7 linked regions of the Homo sapiens genome follow. The protein of the gene in region 6 interacts with the protein of the main gene of each other region in a pairwise test. Each region holds a gene or a part of one and is shown on either strand. Other genes may lie near its edges.

The links.
Region 1: the proteins of PIAS1 (region 6) and FXN interact in binary tests that used the Homo sapiens proteins (3 or more experiments, as listed by UniProt).
Region 2: the proteins of PIAS1 (region 6) and ELAVL4 interact in binary tests that used the Homo sapiens proteins (3 or more experiments, as listed by UniProt).
Region 3: the proteins of PIAS1 (region 6) and ATXN3 interact in binary tests that used the Homo sapiens proteins (3 or more experiments, as listed by UniProt).
Region 4: the proteins of PIAS1 (region 6) and TDP1 interact in binary tests that used the Homo sapiens proteins (3 or more experiments, as listed by UniProt).
Region 5: the proteins of PIAS1 (region 6) and HOXD10 interact in binary tests that used the Homo sapiens proteins (3 or more experiments, as listed by UniProt).
Region 7: the proteins of PIAS1 (region 6) and APBB2 interact in binary tests that used the Homo sapiens proteins (3 or more experiments, as listed by UniProt).

Annotation. Positions count from the first base shown.
Region 1 is NC_000009.12:69,056,252-69,059,751, reverse strand, and holds part of FXN (frataxin, mitochondrial isoform 1 preproprotein), read right to left. Parts: intron 1-3,500.
Region 2 is NC_000001.11:50,107,774-50,111,719, reverse strand, and holds the start of ELAVL4 (ELAV-like protein 4), read right to left. Parts: upstream 2,801-3,946; 5' UTR 2,531-2,800; coding exon 2,522-2,530; intron 1,888-2,521; exon of another isoform or gene 1,780-1,887; coding exon of another isoform or gene 1,756-1,779; intron 1-1,755. UniProt on the Homo sapiens protein: RNA-binding protein that is involved in the post-transcriptional regulation of mRNAs. Plays a role in the regulation of mRNA stability, alternative splicing and translation.
Region 3 is NC_000014.9:92,100,083-92,103,582, forward strand, and holds part of ATXN3 (ataxin-3 reference isoform), read right to left. Parts: intron 1-3,500. UniProt on the Homo sapiens protein: Deubiquitinating enzyme involved in protein homeostasis maintenance, transcription, cytoskeleton regulation, myogenesis and degradation of misfolded chaperone substrates.
Region 4 is NC_000014.9:89,990,427-89,993,926, forward strand, and holds part of TDP1 (tyrosyl-DNA phosphodiesterase 1), read left to right. Parts: intron 1-1,490; coding exon 1,491-1,557; intron 1,558-2,949; coding exon 2,950-3,057; intron 3,058-3,500. UniProt on the Homo sapiens protein: DNA repair enzyme that can remove a variety of covalent adducts from DNA through hydrolysis of a 3'-phosphodiester bond, giving rise to DNA with a free 3' phosphate.
Region 5 is NC_000002.12:176,115,562-176,119,577, forward strand, and holds the start of HOXD10 (homeobox protein Hox-D10), read left to right. Parts: upstream 1-1,216; 5' UTR 1,217-1,272; coding exon 1,273-2,017; intron 2,018-3,392; coding exon 3,393-3,670; 3' UTR 3,671-4,016. UniProt on the Homo sapiens protein: Sequence-specific transcription factor which is part of a developmental regulatory system that provides cells with specific positional identities on the anterior-posterior axis.
Region 6 is NC_000015.10:68,088,815-68,092,314, forward strand, and holds part of PIAS1 (E3 SUMO-protein ligase PIAS1), read left to right. Parts: intron 1-3,500. UniProt on the Homo sapiens protein: Functions as an E3-type small ubiquitin-like modifier (SUMO) ligase, stabilizing the interaction between UBE2I and the substrate, and as a SUMO-tethering factor. Catalyzes sumoylation of various proteins, such as CEBPB, MRE11, MTA1, PTK2 and PML.
Region 7 is NC_000004.12:41,008,543-41,012,042, reverse strand, and holds part of APBB2 (amyloid beta precursor protein binding family B member 2), read left to right. Parts: intron 1-3,500. UniProt on the Homo sapiens protein: Plays a role in the maintenance of lens transparency, and may also play a role in muscle cell strength. Involved in hippocampal neurite branching and neuromuscular junction formation, as a result plays a role in spatial memory functioning.

The sequences.
Region 1 (3,500 bases), on a different chromosome or scaffold from region 6:
AAGCCAGATCCTTTGTCTCCATATCCAATGAGATGGTGCCTCACTGGGCCAGGAACAGTGACTCACACCTCTAATGCCAGCACTTTGGGAGGCTGAGGCCAGTGGATCACTTGAGGTCAAGAGTTCAAGACCAGCCAGGCCAACATGGTGAAACCCCATCTCTACTAAAAATACAAAAAAAAAAATTAGCTGGACATAGTGGCACGCGCCTGTAATCCCAGTTACTCGGGAGACTGAGGCAAGAGAATCCCTTGAGCCCAGGAGGTGGTGGTTGCAGTGAGCTGAGATCGTGCCACTGCACTCCAGCCTGGGTGACAGAGTGAGATCTCTCTCAAAAAAAAAAAAAAAAAAAAAAAAAAAGATGCTGCCTCTGAGCAGGGGTTTTTAACTTGGGATTAAGTGGTCTCAGGGGGCTGCAGACACTTCCAGCTTGAAGCTGGAATGGTACTCCTGAGTATGTTAACTTAAGTGTAGCTAAAACTGCCTCCTTACCTATTTTGAGTTCGGATCTAAGGGCTTCTCTGTACATAGTGAACTGCAATCTACTCTTGTACCAATCACCGAGTTTTGGCTAATCAAAGGCGGCCAACTGTTCAAACCAAGTTTAAGGCAAACACCAAGCTGTAACCAACCTGGCTGTTTCTGTACCTCACTTTCATTTTCCTTTTTCTTTTCTTTTTTTTTAAGATGAAGTCTCGCTCTGTCGCCCAGGCTGGAGTGCAGTGGCGGGATCCTGGCTCACTGCAAGCTCCGCCTCCCAGGTTCACACCATTCTCCTGCCTCAGCCTCCCAAGTAGCTGGGACTACAGGTGCCTGCCACCACGCCCGGCTAAGTTTTTGCATTTTTAGTAGAGACAGGGTTTCACCGTGTTAGCCAGGATGGTCTCGATCTCCTGACCTCATGATCTGCCCGCCTCGGCCTCCCAAAGTGCTGGGATTACAGGCGTGAGGCACCGCACCAGCACCAGGCCCTCACTTTCATTTTCTGCATGTCACTTTCCTTTTTCTGTGCATAAATCCTAAATCCTCTCCAACCACGTGGCACACCGTGGAGTCTCTCTGAACCTATTCTGGTTGCAGCCTTCCCGATTTATGAATCATTCTTTGCTGAATAAAACTCTGTTAATTTGTTTAAAGTTTTTTTTTTTTTTAACAGGTGAGTATGGAAGTTTTTATTGGGAGAGGGACCAGAGCAGTCATCAGATTCTTAGAGGGAGGTCCTGATCCAAAAAAGATGAAGAACCCTCAGTTCTAAGACAGTAATATGCTGACACCTTAGTGAATAAAGAACATGTCAACAAGCAAATCCTTATTAAAATATCTAAGATGCCAGGACTCCACCTGGGAAAAAAAAGAGGTCAGCCTGGAGGTAACTTCAGGTAGTGGGGTGACTCTAACAGTCTCCAGGCAGATTTTACTAGGTCAAGTAGAGCGGACTCCACAGCTGCCTAGTGACAAGAGGTCCTTTCAGCTCTGGTAGAGTGTCTTCTGTAATGACCAGTGCCAGTAAGGGGTGATGCCTGGGCCAGACATTGGCATCCACCTGTTACCTGGACCACTTGATCAGACGACACACCAGTTAAGAAGCCACTTAAGTCTCCCACTCCACAGAGAGAAAAAAGAACAGATGTCCTCTTGGGTGTATCTGGATTACTGCTTTCATTTGTCTATGTGGCCAGTAGCGAGTTGGTAAAAGGTGTATAAATGCTGAGAGGCATCAACGAAAGCATGTTTTGGAAAAGTCTCATTTACATATGAATCAATATTTATTAAGTCCCTACTATGTACTTGGCACTGTTCCAGACACTGGGATCAAAGAATGGACAGTGTCCCTGCTGTTGAGGAACTCAGTGTGTTATAGGTGGTAGCTGACGTGTAAATAGACAATTATAACACAGAGGGATCAGTGCTCCACAGAGTCAACCTCAGAGTGCTGGGCAAGGGAGAAAGGAAGGACCGTGTCTGCTTGGAGTATCTAGGAAGGCTTCACAAAGGAGGTAACTTCTAGCTATATCTCAGGGGAGGAAAAGACTGCTCTCCCACAAAGCTCAAGTAATAATATTATCAAACATGAAATACATAAATTAGTTAGCACCTGAAGGACTCTAATCAGGAATTCATACTCTAGGGTACAGAGTTAGCATTTCAATGTAGTTAATCACAAGTCCAAACTATAGATGGCAGCCACTGTATAGCTTTAGCTTTCTAAATCTACACTTAAGCATTTGCTAATTAGTAAATGATTTGTTAGAAATAATTTTGCCCTTGAGTGATACTCAAGGTATATGAATTGGCTAGAAAAATATAGGCATCTCTTCCTTTGAAAGAATGGGTTACAGAATCTGGAAAGCCTACTAGCCTAATGTTGTCTTCAGAGAGACAATCTCAGGGCAGGAATCAGGAAGGTTCTCTGACCCACTACTGGGAGCAGAAGGTTTTGTCGCCTGGTTCAAATTGATTCAATGATGTGAGAAATAAAAACAAAATTCTAAGCTCCCAACTGACTCAACAAACTATCTTTTGGCCAAGGGGAGCCCAGAGATATCTAAAAAAAATTTTAAGTTTTGGCCATGATGGGAAAGGAGTTCAAACAGGACTCGTTCTATTCCCTCCCTAACTGCCATTAGTTTTTTTTCCCCTAAGGGCTAAATAGAAACTAGCCCTTTCAAAAAAATTATTTCAGGCCATGCATGGTGGCTCATGCCTGTAATCCCAGCACTTTGGAGCTGCCTGTAATCCCAGCACTTTGGGAGGCCAAAGCAGTTGGATTACCTGAGGTCAGGAGTTCAAGACTAGCCTGACAACATGGCAAAACCCAGTCTCTACTAAAAATATAAAAAAATTAGCCAGGCGTGGTGGCAGGCGCCTGTAATCCCAGCTACTCGGGAGGCTGAGGCAAGAGAATCACTTGAACCCAGGAGGTGGAGGTTGCGATGAGCTGAGATCACACCACTACACTCCAGCCTGGGCAACAGAGCAAGACTCCATCTCAAAAAGAAAAAAAAAAAAAAGACTCACTTCACCACTGGTATCAACTCATCACCTAATTCTGCCCTTCCTTTTTAGTGGTTTCAGCACAACTGACTAGCATTCCTTCCTGATAACCACTGACCACAGAGTGGTCTAAGACAGGGTCTTGCCCTGTCATCCTGGCTGGAGAACAGTGGTGCGATCATGGCTCACAGCTGCCTCGAACTCCCAGTCTTAAGTGATGCTCCTGCTTCAGCCTACCAAATAGCTAGGTTATGTAGATATGCAGTCTCATTTTGTTGCCCTGTAATACATGTTAGTGTTAAGTTTCTGCCTAAGGTGAACATGGGAGACATGCTGCACACGTTAGCTTACTCCACATGTGTGCATATTCATAGATCCTCCCTTTGTGAATATTCATAGATCCTCCCATAATCTGTTGAATATGTATGCTTAGCTACGCCTCTCAGCATAAATTCATGTTCCCTTTGCCCCTTCTTGGAAGTGCTTGTTTTTCAGTTATGGCCAGA
Region 2 (3,946 bases), on a different chromosome or scaffold from region 6:
TTTTCACTCAGTTTGTGCCAAGACCAGAATCAGGACCAAATGCCAAATGGAAGGCAGTGGTTATGAGAGTGCAAGCCTGATGGATCCTGTGACTGTGGGCATGGGGAAAGAAGGAAAGCAAAAAGCTCTTCATTTATTATTTTGTAAAGTAATTTCTACTGAGGAAAAAAATGAGAGGTACAATGAATTCCCCTGAAACTATAGTATCAACATCCGATTTAGTAAAAATACCAAAATCACCTAACCCCAAATCATTGCTTAGGGTAGATCTATTCTACCTATATTTTTCCTATGAATATTTGCTGGAAATTTCTAAGAAATCATTTGCAGAACCTATCAGCTGTGGGAGTTCACTATTATGCTTCCGTCAACTTCATTCAATATAATTTACATTTTTTCAAATGGTCTCACAGGATTCCTTGCGATTTTTCGCATGTACAATTTCACACCAGGGAAAAGGGGGAAAAAGGAAAAAAAAAAAAGCAAGATTCCCTACCCTCCCTTCCCCCTCACCTCCTCTCTGGGTTTTTTAAACAACAACAACAACAACAAAAACCACACGCGCACACACACACGCACACACACACAAAAACAGGGGAGACAGAACAGATGCTTAAAAATAGATTTCTAAAAATCACTGTAAACCAGAGTTAGAAATGTAATTAACACCTATTAATAACGAATAATTAAAGTTGGGCTGGCCACAAAGAACAGCAAAGATAATCGAGGTCCTGTCCCCCTCCCCTTTTTTTTTACACTGTTTGCAGTGTGTTCTCATGATAGCCACCTGCTCCCTACTCGGCTTCTCCTCTGTTCGTTTCCCCGGCAACCTTTCATTGGGTTTTCCTCCCAGCTATCGCTTTCAGTTGGGCTGCTCGGTCTAATCTTATTTGTTTTACACCCATCAAAACAAGCAGCCAGACAAAGGCAATCCTCTAAGAATGGGAAAAAGACCACAGCTTTGTTATAACATCTATGCAGAGCAAAAAGTCCTCCCCAGGCTTTTCTAGGGAAAAATAAGTAAGATGGTTATGAATTTACAGCCTGCCCCCATACCCAGCTCTGAAACCTTGTGAAACCTATTGCTGGTGAAAATTCAAAGTCAAAGTGGGCACTCGTGGCATCTAATCATGCCATTTTGTGCCATATCTTCAGGGTCAACATCAGGCGACAGAAGCGGCACTCAAGGAGTTTCCCTGCTTCTTTTTTCAGAAAAAGATGATGCTAAAAATAGATTTACTACTTCGGCAGAAAGGTTTTCCACTTCCCCTTCCACATCCGAAAGTCCTGTTTCACAATTGCATCGGCTGGTACTGAATCTCACCTCCTCCACCCCTCATTCCCATCCTTCCCCATCACTCCTAGCATGAGACTGAAAAAGAAATGTGCCTTTAACTTTAGCAGTCGTGTAATTCCGTTGAAGGCTCACAGAGGCGGTGGACACGCCAGCCAACAGTGACGGTGACATTGATTGTCAAAAAAGACACCAACCTTCCTTGGCTAAAATGTGTGTTTGCTGGAAGAGGCAGTGTGTGTGCCTTGTGTGCATGCAGTGCCATTACACTTGGAGATGGATTCTGGTTTTCAGAAAAGAGAAATACTAATAAACACACACATACATACACACACAAACGATCAGCACAGTGATTTACGATGCACAGTCCAGCATCCTTACACATACACACATACAAGCACACACACACACACACACACACAGGGCTGGGACCTCCAGGCTGCCTTCCTCTTTTCACTTACCATCTTCAAGCCATTCCACTCCATCTGTGATCAGAAGAAGATGGACCCTCACACAGTGTGTCAAAAGCGGAAAGGAACGTTATGTAAAAGCTGACATTCCTTCTTACAGAGCTGCTGCCCAGAGAAGGAAGCAACAACTCAACACGCCAGGCACTGCTACACATACAAGCCGCCTCCTCTTTTTTATGAGGTCATGACAGGAAACTCTTTGAAATACAAGATGCAGCATTTACTGAAGCCCAAATAAATCACTCTCTTTGCCGTTTTGACTGCGCAGTCCCCCGAAACACAACTGCCCATCTCAGTGTTCAGTATCCAGGAGCTGCCTCTCGAGGTTTAAATTTCCAGCACGGAAATTGAGAGATTCCTAACCCCGCTGCATCCACCCCCAGCCCCACAAAACCCAGGCACGTAGACAAACCCCCTCTCCCTTACAAAAAAGAAAACCCTTCTTTTGCCATTATGTCTCAAGTAATATAACCTCTTTCAATAAACCAGCAATTATTTCAGCCCTCCCCCTCCACCCCTTGCCTTTATGTTGAAGGGAAAACTGACAACGACTTGCTAAAAATGACAATCTTATATCCCCATTGCTTTTCAATAAAAGGACCTACCCGCACTCTCTACACAAAAGAGATAGTAAATGTAGGAACCAAACAGCAGCACAGAACTAAACTCTTGTGCAAGCATAAGACTGGTCAAGGTGTAGATGCTTTTCTTCCCTCCAGCAACACAAACAACAGATTATAAATCTAGTCATACCTACCATAACCATTCTTATTGGCAAATATTGGGTCTCGCAGAGCTTCGACTCTTCTGTTAAAATTTGCAAAGATTTCAGAATATATATTTAAAATGACTACTATTGTTATATATAATTAAAGATCCACAAAACACAGTGTGGATGATTGTAAAGCAAATCAATTATTTTTGGGGGGGTGGGCGGGGGAGAGAAAGAAAAAAAAGAAAAGGAGCAGTGAGCTGAAACCCCCGATTCTAGGATGTAGATAAGAACAACTGAACAGAGCCTTGCTGAAATTGGCTCGAAGCTTCCCCTTTTTACATCCATTTATGGGACCATCTGTCAGCCGAAGCCTGGATCTGATTGGCTGGGGAAACGAAGGGAGGCGTTGCAACATCAGGTGCTATTTAAATTAGCTACTGCCAGATTGACGATGTTAATGATTTGGTGACCTCTACAACAACAGAGACCAGATTTCTGAACTGCTTCTTGTGTCTGGTAATTAAGGCCCGGCTGAAGCAACAACAGCCATACTTGTATTTTTACCTTTTCCCTCCTCCCAGCTCAAAAGTACTGTAACAACTGCAGGTCACTGGAGGCTTGCAAACCTAAACTAACAGTGGGAGGGTCCTTCTTTTCCCATCCTGAGGGCCGAACCGTGCCACCTCTCTGATGGAGGGCTTTTCCACCGTAGAATATTTTCAACCACCTTATCTTTCTAGACAGTTGCTTTCTAGCGAAATGCATATTTAATGATCTGCCTGTAGGCTTAAAGGTACAACAAAAGCACTTTAATGTGCTAATTCATCTACAATTTAACTTTATTATTTCCAGATATTGCTGATTTTTAGTAAGTAATGCTCCTTCTCCAGCTAACATGGCCAACATTTCAAAAGCAAGCAAGTTGGGGATTAAGCTTGCTCCGTGAACTAGGTTCATACAAGTTTGTCTCAGAAAACTATTTCCTAATAAACAAAAAGAAAAAAAATGGTGGGGGTAAGGGAGGGGCAGCTGTCAGCCTCTACCTTTCTGCCTTCTGTCTGAGCTTTTCAAAACTGAGGATGATGAATGATTTACTTAAATGAATTTATTTTTCAAGTTGGATAGGAACATGATCTGAATTTTTAAAAATCCACTAAAACACATTCTCCTACCCCTTTAGAGAAAGGTAAAACATGCTTTTGACAACAGCCTCATTTCAAAACCTGTGCAGAGTGTTCATTTTGCTTAACTAAATAAGTGATTTTGCTTCTCTCCTTCAAAGGGATGTCTTTTTTTCTTTGGCCTCTTAAGAGATTTGCAAAGAGACATTTAGCAAGTGTATGGTGAGGTATACAGTTTGTCTGCCTATTTACACATTTAACAACCTCTACACTACCAAGCCTTCAGTAGTGTATTTTTTGTTCTGGTTTGGGTTTTTTAAGTGGCTTACCTGAGAAGTTCATGCTT
Region 3 (3,500 bases), on a different chromosome or scaffold from region 6:
ACCACAATGTGTTAGTACACAAACTCTAAAATGGCTAAAATGTTGGAGATTAGAGATACAGAAACTGTTGTATACTACTGATGAGAGGATAAATTGGTATAACCAATAATAACTAATAATTATGTAATGCATCCACTAAAGCTTAATATATACATCTCCTATGATCTAGCAATTCCATTACTAGGTACATAATGTAAACAACAGCAATGCAAACATACATTCATCAAAAGACATGTATAAGAATGTTCACAAAAGCAGTATTTTTGTGCCACAAATAGCATTACTATTTGTAGTAATACAAAATAGCATTACAGATAGCATTACTATTTGTAATGGACCCCAAACTGGAAACGACCCAAATGGATAGCTGGGATCACAGTAGAATGGAAATTGTGTTTACTCACAAAAGAATACTAGATAACAATGAGGATGAATTAACTACAACAGTAGTTAATTAACAATAATTAACAGTAGTTAATTCTGGAACAGTATGGATAAATTTCTCAAACAATGGTAAACTAAAGAGGACAGAATCGAAAGGGTATATACACTGTACACTTCCAGTCACAAAAGCTCAAAATCAGGCAAAACTCATTTATGATGTCAGAATTCAGCATAGTGGTTATATTTGGTGGGAATGCAGTGGAGAGACAGTACCTAGAAAAGGGAATAATGGGAGGTTATAGGATGCAGGTAAATCTTTTGTTACTTGCTGTTTACACATGTTCACTGTGTGAAAATTCGCTGAGCTGTACTCTTAATGATTTGTGTGCTCCTCTCTGTATTGTATCTAATTTTTAAAAAATTCAAACAGTAAGAAAAAAGCCTTTGCTAACACAAATTTCCTGTCTTGCTGTCAGTTTGGAGTTTACAAACTATGGTCACCATACTTAATACCATATATAGCAATAGTGACATCCAAATATTTGATTAAAATTCTCTCTATAAAAAATAGCTTTAAATTATGAAAAATAAGTACTTGAAATCAAACTTCATCAAAGAAAAACTGTATTGCTACAGGAAATATCAAGTTCTGTACTTCTAATATGATTTAATGGAAGGAAAGGACAAACTGTTCAGTACAAATTTAAAAATCACTTAAGGCTAGGCACAGTGGTTCATACTATAATCTCAACTGTTTGAGGGGCTGAGGTGGGAGGATCACTTGAGCCCAGGAGTTCAAGGCTACACGGAGCTAAGATTGTGCCACTGTATTCTGGCCCAGGTGACAGAGCAACATCATGTCTCTCAAAAAGACACAAAATAAATAAAAATAAAAACAAAAATAAACATAACTTAAGTCATAGGACGGATCAAATTCCACATGGACCAAAAGAATTGTACAATGACAATGAGCCCACGTAAGATTATGCATTTTCCTGCCTTGCCCTTATCTCAAACTATCCCCAGCCACCTCTCTCATCAAGCTTTAATCAAAGCAGAAGTTCACTTTGCCATAATCAAAGTTCAGCGGTATTGAAATCTCATGATTTGGCTGGGCATGGTGGCTCATGGCTGTAATTCCAGCACTTTGGGAGGCCAAGGCAGGTTGATCACTTGAGATCAGGAGTTCGAGACCAGCCTGGCCAACATGGTGAAACCCCGCCTCTACTAAAAATATAAGAATTAGCCAGGTGTGGTGGCAGGCGCCTGTAGTCCCAGGTGCTCAGGAGGCTAAGGCAGGAGAATCACCTGAACCCAGGAGGCGGAGGTTGCAGTGAGCTGAGATTGCACCACTGCACTCCAGCCTGGGTGACAGAGTGAGACTCTGCCTCAAAAAATAAAAAATAGGCTGGGCGTGGTAGCTCACGCCTGTAATCCCCGCACTTTGGGAGGCTGAGGCAGGTGGATCACGAGGTCAAGAGATCAAGACCATCCTGGCCAACATGGTGAAACCTCGTCTCTACTAAAAATAAGAAAATTAGCTGGGCATGGTGGCACATGCCTATAGTCCCAGCTACTCGGGAGGCTGAGGCAGGAGAATCTCTTGAACTCAGGAGACGGAGGTTGCAGTGAGCTGAGTTCGCGCCACTGCACTCCAGCCTGGTGACAAAGTGAGACTCTGAAGAAAGTTCGTGCCACTGCACTCCAGCCTGGTGACAGAGTGAGACTCCAAAGAAAGAAAAGAAAGAAAGAAAAGAAAGAAGGAAGGAAGGAAGGAAAGAAAGAAAGAAAAGGAAGAAAGGAAGAAAGGAGGGAGGGAGGGAATAAATAAATTAAAAACAAAAAAAAAAATAAAAGAAATTCTATGATTTTAGGCCCAGACTTCATTGTGTTGGGCTCAGAGAATTAGCAAACTGCAGTTCTACAAAGATAATGTATAAAATCACAAAAGAGAACTGCTACCAAATCATTTACCCCCAACCTCCCCAGGTTTTCAAGACCAACCTGAAACTAGTTCAAATTACCAGAGACACTACTAACTACAACACAAATCAGGTATAAACCTAAGGTGCTCTCGGGAATGGGCTATCTGGGGACAAGCTGTCAATCTAGCAGCATTTCTCACCTCCTCTTAGTGCTCTCCGAGCCCTTACTATGAGGTTCAGCAAACACAAGCACCTGAGTAATGGCAATGGCCAGTACTTCTACAGCACTATCTGCCAGGGAGCCTTCTCTACACTCTAACTCTCAGGTTATGTCTATGTTATTATCCCCACACTACAGAGGAGGAAACTAGAGGACAGGGATACTAAGTAACTTGCTCAGGATCACACAGGTAGTAAAAGGCAGAGCTGAGACTCAAACCCAGGCAGAGGTTTCAAAACCTGTGCTATTAGCACTTCAAGTCATTTATACAGAATTTGGCTTCTCCTAAAGCTCAAATGTCCTAAAGATGGCTAAAATCCAGCAATCACAAAAGGGCATAATGAATGCCACAGAGTCAATGCTCAGCATCTTTTCAATCTTTTCAATAATTTTATGTACAACCCCAGCAAGTTTAGATATTATTACCAGTTTGCATTACATTAAAAGCACCAATACAAATGGCACAGTAACTGCACCAAGAAACATCAGCAAGAGGATTAAAAAAAAAAAAAAAAACAAAGCAGGCACCAGAACTAAAACAAACAACAACAAAAATCCAGTAGTGGTCATAAAGTTAGTACAAAGGTTTAAGTTAGGGGTTGGCAAACTCTAGCCCATGGGCCAAATTCAACCTGCCCCAGTAGCTAAGAATGCACTTTACATTTTTACATGGTTGGGAAAAACATGCACAAATAAGAATGTGTGACAGAGACTACAGCTGGCCTGCAAAGCCTTAAAATATTTACAGAAAACTTGTTTACTTTAGATAAACAGCACCATATATATCTCAGAAACTCAAAGCCATCTCTTTATCCATTCAAATATATACATTTTTTTCTTTTGAGACAGGATCTTGCTCTGTCCCCTAGGCTGGAGTGCAGTGGTGCGATCATGGCTCACTACAGCCTCGACCTCCCAGACTCATGCAATCCTCCCACCTCAGCCTCCCAAGTCTACAGGCATGTGCTAAC
Region 4 (3,500 bases), on a different chromosome or scaffold from region 6:
TTGTTGATGGCTGAAAGCAGAATGCACTGAATTAAACTAATTTAGTCCATTTATTGCTTATCAGGCTCAATAAGAAAAATCTGCCAGGAAAATTTCGCTAGCGTTTGGAGTGTATTAGCCCTTTTTTTTTTTTTTTTTTTTTTTAATGGCAAAACCAAAATTACTTCACCGAGACCCAGGGATACAGTGGTGGTTTTTCTTTGGTACTCTTTTTGTGCCTCTAATAGGCTAGATTCATTCAAAGTGTACTTTTAATGGGGGAACAACATGGTATTTTTAACAAAGTTGTTTTATAACTGGCTTTGAAACTGAATGTTTTTAGTTATTTGAAGTTGAAGACAGGACATGCCCTATTTGATATGTCAGAGATGTTTGGATATAGATCTCTTTGGGTGTAGATCAGTGTGGAGAAGTTCCAGCATGTGTGTGGAAAGTCACTGATAATCCACTGTGGAGTTTTCTTCATTTTAAAAATGAGCAAGCATTGACTTCTAATTGTATTTCCACTTGGAACTTTCTTTATTCTCTTTGCAAGAATAAGGCTTTTAGAATTCCTTTTTTCAAACTGAACTGTTTACTGAACGTTTTGTTTTTTAGCCATTCTTTTCTGTTTGTCAGAATCTGCTCAGCCAGTACAAAGTCTGTTTGGAAATAGTGTGTAAAGGTGAAGTAGAAGGGGCACTGACATCTTGTCCTAGATTTTCCTCCCCAAGTCCCACGGTCTTGGGCAAAACAGAGGCTGTCCAGCTGTGTCTTATTTGCATAAGGAGGGTAGGATGGGCCAGGATTCTAACACTTCAGATCTGTGCAGGTATAGATGTTAAATTATCATCACCAAGTAATTCAATTATAATTTTTTGTTTTCAAAGTGTACTTTTAATGGGGAACAACGTGGTATTTTTAACAAAGCTGTTTTATAACTGGCTTTGAAACTGAGTGGTTTTAGTTATTTGCAGTTGAAGCTTTTGCAGGAAAAAGCTCTATTCTGCTTTACTTGGTGCGTTCTCGTCCTCAATGAGGTAATTTACTTTTATTCTCGACACAGAAGAATTGTAAATAGTCCTTACATTCCTGATGGGAGAAATCTTTTTAATGTGTTCATAATTCTTGCTCTGAATGTTGAATGGGTTTCTAAAAAGTGATTAGCGAGTTGTCATTAGTTTTCAGTATGTTTGTGTTACATGAGCCTTATTTAAAGGCATCCCATGACTATACTTCGTAAAGTATATGATCATCACTTACTTTTGCTTATAAGTCTGGATGTTTATAAGATTTGCATAAAGTTAATACTGAAGGAAGGAAACCTCGTTAAGAGAACATATCTAGTGCAACTATAGACATTTTCTTTCAAATAACTATTCTATAAGATGAAGTAATAGAAGTAGTTTTTTTCCTGTTACCTTCTTGCTGTTTATTGTAGATTTTCCTCTTAATGAGGGATCCTCAAATTATATTTCATAATTTTTATTGTTTTATTTTTCTTTTAAAAGCTGGGGGCTCTCTTCCCTATAGCATCCAGACAGCTGAAAAACAGAATTGGCTGCATTCCTATTTTCAGTAAGTAATTGGTTTAGACTGCTGCTATTGCTTCTTTAGGAATTAGAGTGTTATTTATGTCACTGGTTTGTTTTTTTTTTTAAAAGGAACTTTATGTAATATAGCTATATTCTTTCATCTACATATGTTAGTGATAGAAATAATTTAAAACAAGGTTTTGAATTTTTTTTGGAATAGGTTTTTAATACCAAAGAGGAAAATTTATTGCTGTGAGGTTTCTATTTAAATATTGGCATGCCAAGAAAGACAAATAGAAGATCATGTTGGGTAGTTTAGAATTTACATAAGCAGCATTTTAGTTCATTTTTCCAAAATATAAAGTATCATTATTCTGTCTGTACCGTCACACATGCAGCTGCAAGCTTGTTGAGGGCAGATTCTTTGCTGCCGTTTCCTGAGGATACAGGACAGTATCTGGCGTGTTGTCAGAGTTCAGTAAATGCTGAGTGGACAAGTGAAGGGAATGTCCTTCACCCTCCTCCAGCCACAGCAGTTGCACAGCCTGCATATGCAAGGCCAGTCTGTTTCATGCTTGTCTCAACAGGTGTTTGCTGTGCTGGTTAGCCAGAAATGAAAGCAGAATTACTTTGAATTATAGCTTTCAACTGTAAGTCAGTGTGTAATCCTAGAGCTTTTCTTTAGTGCTTTCTTGAGAGGTTTTTCCTTACAGAGGACATTTCTTTAAATTGAACTCATTTAAATATTATATTATTAAATTCACTTGAATGAAGACAGTGATGGTACCTACCTAAACCTGATTCTGTTTTCACAGACCATCTGTTAATCTGGAGGGACCATCCTCTTATATTCATAAGTAAAGATTGTTGCTTCATGATATAGGTTCCCATAGAACCATAGTCTGCAATATTGGAAACTTAGAAACCAAACTCAGATTTGTGAATGTCAGCATTTGACTAAAGTATTTCTGCCCTCGCTTTTCAACATTCATTTTTTTCATATACTGTTTGTATTTTGCCTTTTTTGTATTTTGTTTCATTCAACAAGCTTTTGCTGAGCCTCTACTCATAACACACCGTGGAAGCATGATTCTTCCCTTTAAGGAGCTCACAGTTCAGGCAGGAGACATATACACACATGCTGTTAAAAGCACAACAGAAATAATATGTATGCATGTATGTATGTTCATGGCAAAAATGGAAAGGCTATATGCTGAAAGGTTGCAGTGCTTCTTGTGAAAAGTGGGAAGTTTATAATTCTAAAATGGGCATGCGTTACTTGAATGGAGTTTCATAAAATCTCACAGGTCACAGAGTCGTGTAGCCACTGTTGATTTTTAGATAATAGGCTCTTTGTTTTCATGCAGTTTCCTAATATTAGGATTATGATCAATTTTATTTCATAATTAGTAACTTTTGTCTTTTCTGTCACTAGCAAATGGTCAGCTGAGACTTCTGGCCGCAGCAATGCCATGCCACATATTAAGACATATATGAGGCCTTCTCCAGACTTCAGTAAAATTGCTTGGTTCCTTGTCACAAGGTAAATAGTCCTTACATTCCTGATGGGAGAAATCTTTTTAATGTGTTCATAATTCTTGCTCTGAATGTTGAATGGGTTTCTAAAAAGTGATTAGTGAGTTGTCATTAGTTTTCAGTATGTTTGTGTTACATGAGCCTTATTTAAAGGCATCCCATGACTAATCCCTTTGTAAAGTATATGATCATCACCTACTTTTGCTTATAAGTCTAGATGTTTATCAGATTTGCATAAAGTTAACATTTACTTCTGTTATTTAATACCTCAATAGGGGTTATGCAAATTGACATTTGGGGTAAGTACAGAAGAATAATGAAATGTTAAAATTAATATTTTTTTCTTAATTAGTTTCTCCTTAGGTAATTGAAATCTGAAGCAATCAAATCTCTTATGTGTCCTTTTCTAAAACATCTTTAAGGTGTAATTCACGTACCATAAAATCTGCC
Region 5 (4,016 bases), on a different chromosome or scaffold from region 6:
AAAAACCTTCAGAAGCAAGAAAATTACCAAGTAGCCCAAGAATGTAGATGAGAATTTTATTGATCGCCCTGATTCTTCTTAATATGTATTAATAAATTCCACAACCTTTTGTACCTTGCACTTGTCAGAAACCAGTGCTTTTACAAAATCCATAAAAGGAAAACATTTTTCTTTGCAGAAGAACCAAAATGACACCTTTGCATTTCTCTCTGTCCTTCTTGGCCCAGTCAGTTTTCTAAAACTTCTGGATTCTGAGGGTCAGAGTTTCCCCTTTTCTTAAATTATTTTTTCCTTTCTTCCTTCCTGTTTGCCCTCCATTATCAGGGTGTGGGGAGAGAAACCTCTGTTTAGTTCTCCTACAGGGAGCCCGAGGGACGCTTTCGCGGATAGTGAACTGCTGGCAAAGAATTGTCTCTGGGCTGAAAGCTCCCAGAGGTCCGGCCCCGCAGAGGTCAGGGTGTGGTTCCTCTGAGAGCCGAAGCCTCGTGTAGCCCTCCGGGGCGCATAGGAACCCGGAGCCAGGCAGGAGGACCGAGCGGGAGGACAACGCAGGGACCAACCCATCCATGGGGATCCGGGCCCGGCCAGCTGCTTGGCCTCCCGGCCCTCGCGGCCCTTTTTGCCTCCGCCCTCCTAGAGACACCTTGGCCGCTTCTTAGCCCCAAGGGATCTTTCCTTTGGACCCCTGGGGTGGGATGTCTCAGGGCCCGCGGAATCCGACTCACCTTCCCGCTGGGCTGCCCGGGACTAAATTAACCAGCCTGCGCCCCCACCCGCTTGTCCTGGACCCGGCCCTCTTAAGCGCGTTCTGCCTGGTTGTGTGTGGGGGGAATGCTTCTGTGCGCTGGCGCCAGGGCACTCTGGCTTCCCTCCCCGTCCGTGCGTGTCCACTTGGAGGCCCCTAGAGCTGAGACTTTCCTTCCGCCGGTTGGGCCCAGGGGCCGAAGCGGGGGACGCGAGTGGGGCGGGCTGGCCGAGCGAGCCCTGGAGAGGCGGACAGGAGGGCGGCGGAGAGCGCTGGGCCGGTTGTCTCCAGCGCGCACTATCGCGGGCGCGTAGTAGATGTCGCTGTTGTCCGTGCTTACCCGGCCGGCCGGCCAGGCTCTGGAGCACGTGACCCGAGAGGAGGCTGCGGCTCAAGGCCATTTTCAAATCTCATTGGCTTGGTTGTCATGTGGTCGGCAGAGGCATCCACAATTACACGGGGAATGTTTTCCTAGAGATGTCAGCCTACAAAGGACACAATCTCTCTTCTTCAAATTCTTCCCCAAAATGTCCTTTCCCAACAGCTCTCCTGCTGCTAATACTTTTTTAGTAGATTCCTTGATCAGTGCCTGCAGGAGTGACAGTTTTTATTCCAGCAGCGCCAGCATGTACATGCCACCACCTAGCGCAGACATGGGGACCTATGGAATGCAAACCTGTGGACTGCTCCCGTCTCTGGCCAAAAGAGAAGTGAACCACCAAAATATGGGTATGAATGTGCATCCTTATATACCTCAAGTAGACAGTTGGACAGATCCGAACAGATCTTGTCGAATAGAGCAACCTGTTACACAGCAAGTCCCCACTTGCTCCTTCACCACCAACATTAAGGAAGAATCCAATTGCTGCATGTATTCTGATAAGCGCAACAAACTCATTTCGGCCGAGGTCCCTTCGTACCAGAGGCTGGTCCCTGAGTCTTGTCCCGTTGAGAACCCTGAGGTTCCCGTCCCTGGATATTTTAGACTGAGTCAGACCTACGCCACCGGGAAAACCCAAGAGTACAATAATAGCCCCGAAGGCAGCTCCACTGTCATGCTCCAGCTCAACCCTCGTGGCGCGGCCAAGCCGCAGCTCTCCGCTGCCCAGCTGCAGATGGAAAAGAAGATGAACGAGCCCGTGAGCGGCCAGGAGCCCACCAAAGTCTCCCAGGTGGAGAGCCCCGAGGCCAAAGGCGGCCTTCCCGAAGAGAGGAGCTGCCTGGCTGAGGTCTCCGTGTCCAGTCCCGAAGTGCAGGAGAAGGAAAGCAAAGGTCGGTATGAGCAGAGTTGCCACCCCAGCGGGGCGCGCAGCCCGGGAACCCGGCAGAGAGGGAGTGCCGGGGTGCCCAGCGCCGAGCCGGAGCCCGACTTGGCAGGTGCTGCTCCGCCTGGTTTTAGAGGGGTGATCTCAGCCCTGAGATAGTCCCCGCTTCTCCCCTGCTGCCCTGGCCCTCTCCGCCAGTCCTGGCCCCACGCTGATGGCGCCCGGGCAGAGGAAAAGCTTGCCGGTTTTATTTTTCCTGAGCTAGACCTGAACACAACAAAAGAGCGCAAAGGAGACCTGCGGCTCATAAACACGACCACAGAGCCTCTTTTCTCCTGCTCAGATTTGCAGTTCCAGTTTTGCCTTGAGCCCAATGATCATGTTAAGGTGATCCAGGGCACCGTGTTCGTGTTCAAGTGTATGCACCCCGCATCCTGCGAGCTTGGGGGTGGTGAGGGGAAAGAGATGGCTGGGCTGGTTGGTGCTTGAGTTGGGAAACAGGGCTTACTGCCTTTGCTGGGCTAGGTAACCTTGGCTTTGTTTAGGAAAAGTGCTGCAGTCTTTGCAATCCGTCGGCAAAGAGGGCAAAGGCGGAGGGGGAGAGTGGAACCCGCATTGCCCTCCCTGCAAGGCCAGCCTTAGGGCTGGGCTAAGGCAAAGAGCCAGGGATCTGGCTTTTTGAGAAGGAACCCTCCTCCTCTCCCCCAGTGCTTAGAGGTGGGCCACAGTAGGGGGCTCCCTTTCTGGGGGAATGCTTTAGTGTGGGGGCAAGAAGACATGAAAATTAAGGAAATTCTGGGGAATGCAACAATACCCAGGCAAGGTGGGGGAAGGTGTCTCGCTTCCCCATTTATCTTTTGAAAGAGAATGGGCACCTATAAACCTGACTGTCAGGATTCCTGACTGCCTAGGAGAGGTGGGGAAGAAGTGGCAGATTTGGGGACCTGAGGCAGCAGTGGGGTTGGTAGGCTTGTCCAGGTCGTGGCGTATTCCCCTCCGTCCCTGTTAGGAGCTGAACCCTTAGAATGTTGCTGGGGAGATCTGGAAAGTTTACTATTCTACTAATGTTTTGTACAAGTGAGAAAGTTGAAAGAGAGAGCGAGAACCCAAATGCAGACTGTCCTGCCATCATGTCATTTAAGTAATGTGGCATCAATGTAAGATTCCCTTCCAAGGCCCACTTCATGTGAGTAATGTTTAATACTAGCATTTTCCAAAGCGGCCTGGCTGCCAGCAGGGTCACGGCCAAGGGTACATTTGAACAGTCTGAAGAAAAAAACAAAAACGAAAACCAAAACCAAAACCAAAACAAAAACAAAAACAAAAACAAACAAACAAAAAACCTCTTGATTTTTTTCTTCTTCTCCCTTTAATTTTGTTAGAGGAAATCAAGTCTGATACACCAACCAGCAATTGGCTCACTGCAAAGAGTGGCAGAAAGAAGAGGTGCCCTTACACTAAGCACCAAACGCTGGAATTAGAAAAAGAGTTCTTGTTCAATATGTACCTCACCCGCGAGCGCCGCCTAGAGATCAGTAAGAGCGTTAACCTCACCGACAGGCAGGTCAAGATTTGGTTTCAAAACCGCCGAATGAAACTCAAGAAGATGAGCCGAGAGAACCGGATCCGAGAACTGACCGCCAACCTCACGTTTTCTTAGGTCTGAGGCCGGTCTGAGGCCGGTCAGAGGCCAGGATTGGAGAGGGGGCACCGCGTTCCAGGGCCCAGTGCTGGAGGACTGGGAAAGCGGAAACAAAACCTTCACCGCTCTTTGTTTGTTGTTTTGTTGTATTTTGTTTTCCTGCTAGAATGTGACTTTGGGGTCATTATGTTCGTGCTGCAAGTGATCTGTAATCCCTATGAGTATATATATATATATATATATATATATATAAAAACTTAGCACGTGTAATTTATTATTTTTTCATCGTAATGCAGGGTAACTATTATTGCGCATTTTCATTTGGGTCTTAACTTATTGGAACTGTAGAGCATCCATCCATCCA
Region 6 (3,500 bases):
ATGAAGTGGCTACATTTGTCACATAACTTAGTTTCCTAAATGATTATTTTTGCCGGTAGTTCATTTGTTTTAAATCTAAGAAAACCACGTTTTCTGGAAAATTAAATAGCTTCCAGCATTCTCTTCATTTCTAAACGTACATACATTTAAAATCAAGTTTTTGAGAACATAGTTTCGAACACCAGCTGGCTAGTTGATCACAACTATCACTGAGTCCAGAATGGGACAGGCACATTTACTTTTTCATTTTTTCCCTTCCATTGTGGCCTTAAGCACTAGATTTAAACAGATTTTAAGATGTTCAAATGTAAACTGAATGTTTTTATGCATGGTTTTGTATTTCTAACTAAAATGGAAGACAGTAGTTCTGATAATTCCCATTTTATTAGGTAATTCTCATTCATTCTTACGATCATTTTGTTATTTCTTTAAAACAATTTAAAATAATTTTAAGGCCTTTATTTTGGAGCCATAATTAAAGTATTCTTTTCATTGTCCATAATTAACTGTAAGAATTGAGAGGTGAAGTAAAAGGTGGTTGTAAAGTAAGATGTTTAATTTATTGTTTACTTTGGCCTCTCATTATCTCAATTCTGTTTGTTTCTATGAGGCTTATTTCAAATGCTTTTTTTCTTTAACCTTTTTCATTTATCTTTCTAGGCTGTCCTCCTTTCATCTGTACATTTCTTCCCCAGCCAGAATCAATTTCACTTTCCCTGCATGCTCTCATAACATTTATTTTTTATTTTTATTTTTTTGAGACAGAGCCCCATTCTGTAGCCCAGGCTGGAGTGCAGTGGCACAATCTAGGCTCACTGCAACCTCCGCCCCACTGGGTTCAAGTGATTTTCATGCTTCATCCTCCCAAGTGGCTGAGACTTACAGGCACGTGCCACCATGCCCGACTAATTTTGTATTTTTAGTAGAGATAGGGTTTCACCATGTTGGCCAGGGTGGTCTTGAGCTCCTGACCTCAGTTGATCCGCCCACCTCGGCCTCCCAAAGTGCTGGGATTACAGGTGTGAGCCACTGCACCCGGCCTCATAACATTTATTTTTTAAATTTTATTTTATTTTATTATTTGAGACAGGGTCTTGCTCTGTTGCCCAGGCTGGAGTGCACTGGCACAATCTCAGCTCACTGCAACCTCTGTCTTTCCGGCTGAAGCAGTTCTGCCACCTCAGCCTCCCCAGTAGCTCAGACTACAGACACGTGCCACCATGACTGGCTAATTTTAGTATTTTTAGTAGAGTCAGGGTCTCATCATGTCAGCCAGGCTGGTCTCGAACTCCTGGACTCAAGTGATCTTCCCACCTTGGCCTCCCAAAGTGCTAGGATTACAGGCGTCAGCCACCACACCCAACTTAAATTGTATTTAATAATAATAATAATTATTATTATTTTTTGAGACAGGGTTTCGCTCTGTCATCCAGGCTGGAATGTGGCGGCGAGATCTTGGTTTGCTGTGGCCTTAACCTCCCTGGCTCATGCAATTTTCCCAACTCAGCCTCCCAAGTAGTTGAGACCACAGGCATGCACCACCACACCTGGCTGATTTTTGTTTTTATGTTTTGTAGAGTTGAGGTCTCATTATGTTGCCCAGGCTGTCCTAACATTTAATTTACCCTTTATTAAATGTTTTTGTTTTGTTCCTCAAAATGATAAGGCTTCTGAGGCATTTATCTATAAATCCCTATAATAGCTAGATATGAACCTGTTACATGGTAGTTCAGTAAACATTTATTAGCTCTCCAACTCGTTTTAATGCAGTAGATGGAATCTTTTATTTCATTTTAATTCAGTGGATTTTAACCATTTTACCTTGCAAACACAACTGAGCCATACCACACTCTGTAATTACAAACAGTGGCTATGATAGGGATGGGAAATAGAGTAGGGAAGAATGGTATTCTTCCTCTTATTGCCCTATCCTGTCATCTCTGAGGTTAATTGATGTCTTTGAAATTTAATATACTCCATTTAAAAAAAATTTTCCCTAATTACAAAAATGTTATGTTTAATGTAGAATCCATAGAAATTATAATTACTTGCTTACTTTACAGATAAACTTTTAAAATACTTCTGTGGTATTCTTTTTGTTAGTCATTTACGGGTGTGTGTGTGTGTGTGTGTGTGTGTGTGTGTGTGTATTTCTGGTTTCATTTTGAAGGAGAGGAGAACCTCACTAGCTCACGTAACCTGGCAGCCGCATGTATTATTGATCCATATAAATAATGGAAGAAAATTTTAATCTTGATAGGATGTTGAGCACATGTGTTAAGGGGTACTTTGTTTGAAATACCTTATTGCTTAGTGTGCCAATATTGGTGTTGATGAGGTGTGAAATTTACATAATTATGAAAATAAAAGGAAAAATAATTTTGGATTAAAATATCTTGTCCATTCAGGGACAAGATAATTATTTGATATTTCCTCTCAATCCTTTAATATTGTTTTGTTTAGAATAATACCTGTATCATTCAAAATAGTTTATAATATTGTTTATAGTTATTGTTTAAATTGGCTTTGTTAGAACATAATGGCAAAAACACAGAATACTTTCATGGTAAATAAAATAATAGTTCTTTAGGATACAGTATTTGATTTGATTCAGACTTAAGTATAAACAAATCTATTAATAGATTTATATTTGTTACTAGTTTAGCTATTTATATCTTCCTTGACTCAGGTAAATTTTCAAATAGAAAATACATTTTTAATATAGTGCTTTTAAATATTTTTAATATTTTTAATTATTTCAAAGGCCAACATGTATAGAACAGAGAGCTTTGCATTCATTTGGACTACAGATACTCCTCTGGTTATGTCCCAATAAATCCATCATAAATTGAAAATATCCAAAGTCAGAAATGCACTTAATACACTTAACCTACCAAACATGATAGGTTAGCTTAACCTACCTTAAATGTGTCTAAAACACTTACATTAGCTGACATAACATCTAACACAAGTCCTGTTTTATAATTAAGTATTGAATAGCTCATGTAATTTATTGAATATCGTACTGAAGTGAAAAACAGAATGGTTTTGTTACCAACAGAATGGTTGTGTAGGTACTCGAAGTAATTTCTACTGAATACCTATTGTTTTCTTACCACCATGAAGTTGGAAAATTGTTAAGTCGAGCCATCTGTAGTCATATAAAAGTATGGTGACTCATCTTGTTTGCTTTATATGAGATTGAAGTCAAATTTTACCTTCTCAGGGGATGTCTTTTCAAGTTTTTAAATATCTCAGGCAATATATCTGAATAAGTTCACATCATATGTCTTTATTGATTAGAGATTTCTCATTGATTGGTATGAGGCATAATAATTATTGACTATGAGTGTTACTTATTTTTTTTCTTTTTTTTTCCGAGATGGTCTCGCTGTATTGCCCAGGCTGGAGTGCAGTGGCACATTCTTGGCTCACTGCAACCTCCGCTTCCTGGCTCAAGCGATCCTCCCACCTCGCCTCCTGAGTAGCTGGGACGACAG
Region 7 (3,500 bases), on a different chromosome or scaffold from region 6:
AAAAAATTAGTTGGGCATGGTGGACGGTGGCATGTGCCTGTAGTTCCAGCTACTCAGGAGGCTGAGGCAGGAGGATCACTTGACACCAGGAGTTCGAGGCTGCAGTTAACCATGATTATGCCATTGCCCTGTAGCCTGGGTGATCGAGCGAGACTCTGTTTCAAAAAACATAAATGTATTTTTAAATGAATAATTAAGCTGCCTCTTCCCTTCACCCCAGCCCCCTTTCCCAGTGATGACCATTACCTTATGTTTTTATTTCCTCTCAGAAAATGTTTGAGTCATAGATCCGCATATTAATAATAAATTTTAAGACCGGCATGATGGCTCACGCCTGTAATCCCAGCACTTTGGAAGGCCAAGGTGGAGAGATGGCCTGAGCTCAGGAATTTGAGACCAGCCTGGGCAACATGGTGAAACCCCTTCTCTACTAAAACATTAAAAATTAGCCAGGCATGGTGGCGGGTGGCTGTAGTCCCAGCTACCTGGGAGGCTGAGGCACAAGAATTGCTTGAACCTATGAGGCGGAAGTTGCAGTGAGCCAAGATCCCGCCACTGCACTCTAGCCTGGGTGACAGGCGAGACTCCATCTCAAAAAATAAAAATTAGGCCAGGCGCAGTGGATCACCAGGTCAGGAGTTCAAGGCCAGCCTGACCAATATCGTGAAACCCTGTCTCTACTAAAAGTACAAAAATTAGCTTGGTGTGGTGGTGCGTGCCTGTAGTCCCAGCTACTCGGGAGGCTGAGGCAGAAGAATTGCTTGAACCTGGGAGACAGAGGTTGCAGTGAACCGAGATTGTGCCACTGCACTCCAGCCTGGGCAACAGAGCGAGACTCCATCTCAAAAGAAATTTAAAAATAAAATTAAATTAAATTAAAATTAAAAAAAAAAACAATAATAATCAATTTTAAAATTTACCCAAATGTTGTGATGATGTTTTTAGAATCCCTATGTTTTAGAGATATATACTAATATAAAATACTAATCTATGTCATAGTATAACATATATAATACAGTATAACACATACTGATGGAAACAATATTGTGTATGGTATTTTCTCCAAAATAATTGGGATTAGAAGGATAAAAAAAGAAACAAAATTGCCCATAAGCTGCTGATTGTTAAAGCTGCATTATGGGTACGTGCGGGTTCATTATTCTATTCTCTAATTTTGTATGTTTAAAATTTGCCACAATAAATAGTTAAAACCAGGAAAAAGTTACTCCAATTAGATTGTTTTATGAATGCTTTGCTTTTTTTCACGTAAGAACGTATTTTGTAGATCAGTCCATTTTTCTACGTCAGTCTTTTTAAGTATTATGTATACTATTCCACTATATACAAGTTCCACGATTTATTTAGCAAGTTCCCTGCTGATGAGTATTTAGGTATTTCTGTCCATAGCCCCTTGGCTTATTGAGTGCTGGTGTCAGTAGGGGCCTGTGGAGAGGGCAAAGTTTGTGCACTCCAGTCTACCTACTGGGACTCTTGAAATGTACACGTTAACTCCCTCTTTCCAGGAAGACTTTCAGGGGCCCCTCTGCTGTGACACTTACCACTCATTTGCTCAGTGTCCTGACATTACTTGCTGTTGGGTTTCCACAGAACATCTTACAGTGCTTGGCCTGTGATGAGAACTGGATTAGAGTTTTTTTTACATGTTAAGAAGATATGCTTAGTTTTCTCTCTGAAAGTTGGTTTTGACAGGATGATGGTGGCCCTTGATAAGTTGCTGAGGATAGGTATTTCAAATCAAATATGCTCGAAAAAATGTATTAGCTGTGACCGAAAAGCAATGAGATTGTGTTTTTAAAAAATATACTAGAAGCCAAACCTATGCCAGCCTTCAAAATGTTCACTTGGGATCTCTGCACCTGCTTCAGCATGTTGCACTGTCTCAATATTAATAGTCATAATTTTGGGAGTCCTCTTTTGGAATTGCCTCAGAGTCTGCTGTGGATCCCCATGAAATGAAATCACTTTGCTTTAATCACACTTCAGGTTTCAGGTAATACATAGATTGGTGAATGAAATAAAATAAGCAGTTTTTTAGCATTGTATTTCTTTTGATTTCATCCTTCCTGTGAAACATACTGTTAGTGTTTAAAATAATCATGATCAGTCTAAATTAAACATTGTATGTTTCACTTGTAATGATAAAGTTAGTGTTTATTATGTATGTTTTATATAGTATATACATGTGTATGTGTATATATATAAAATAAACACAAATACCAACAGTTGAAAGAAAAGAGAAAACGAGAGCAAATATCTTGTGACATCTTAGTATGCCATGCCATAGTACATGTATAAAAAGGGTATAGTTGTCTGTTGACTTGCTGTGTGTTAAATACATAGTCATCACAGTGGTGTGTGTTTTATGACTAAATCATGATGCAATTATCTTTGGATCGTAGACTGCACTTTGGGGAGCCTAGAAAAATAGACTCATTTCTACCTCAGGGGCATCCTTTCCAAGTTAGAATGCTATTTATACAATAAAATGCAATGGCTAACCTAGAGACTGACTACTTTCTATTTTCCTTTACTACTGAATCGCCCCCTCCAGCTGTTTAGTAACTTCTTTTTGTACAATCAATCATGTATACAATATGTGGCTGCCCTTTTCCTCCTCTGTAGTCTGTCCTTTAAGAAAACAAGAGGCTATTTGAAAAAGGAAAAGCATCTGTGAAATGACTATTTTCATAGGAGTTTAGAAAAGTTAAAGAGTGCCTTGGCCCTGATTCTAAAAGAAAGGTTGTATCTTGCTACTGCAAAGTGAGAACTTTGAATCTAGTTAGGGTTTTTTTCAAAGATACAGTTCCCTCAGTGGCCCCAGGTAGTAAGCATGATGGCTCAGATAAATAAATACCTGTTGGTCACACTGTATATAGTCTCTCTGTTAATCACTTAGTGTTTCATGTTTGCTTTATGAAAACGTTGAAAAGATGCATCATTTTGAACCTTCCTGGGTACAGGTTTCAGTGGTACCCACATGTAATTTTATGTTTAGTTTGGGATTTAATAAAATTGAAGACACAGAGTATGAAACTAGATGGATCTTGTGTAGTAACTGTTTCAAAATCAGATTCATTGCTAAAGTGTACAAAAGCAGAATTATACACAGAGAAAACCAAGTCCCAAGTCTAGATGGGTGTGGCAATGCGCCTCATGATCCATTAACTTATCATTAAGAGCATAGGCTCTAGAGTGAGCTTCCTGAGTTCAAATCCCAGCTCTGCTATATCTAGGCAGTTCTCATAGCCTCTCATCTATAAAATGGGGATAAGAGTGTTTTGGCATAGACCTGCTGTGAAGATTAAGCGAGAGCATCTTCAAAGAGCTTTTAGGAGCAGTATCTGGCATATAGCAAGAGCTCAATGAATATTCATGATTATTATATTAGAGACAGTATCAGTACAGTGGTGTGTTATAAAAGTTTGCTTTTCTCTTAATTATGAATTACCTATATTTTGGACTCTGAGTTACGACTTTCT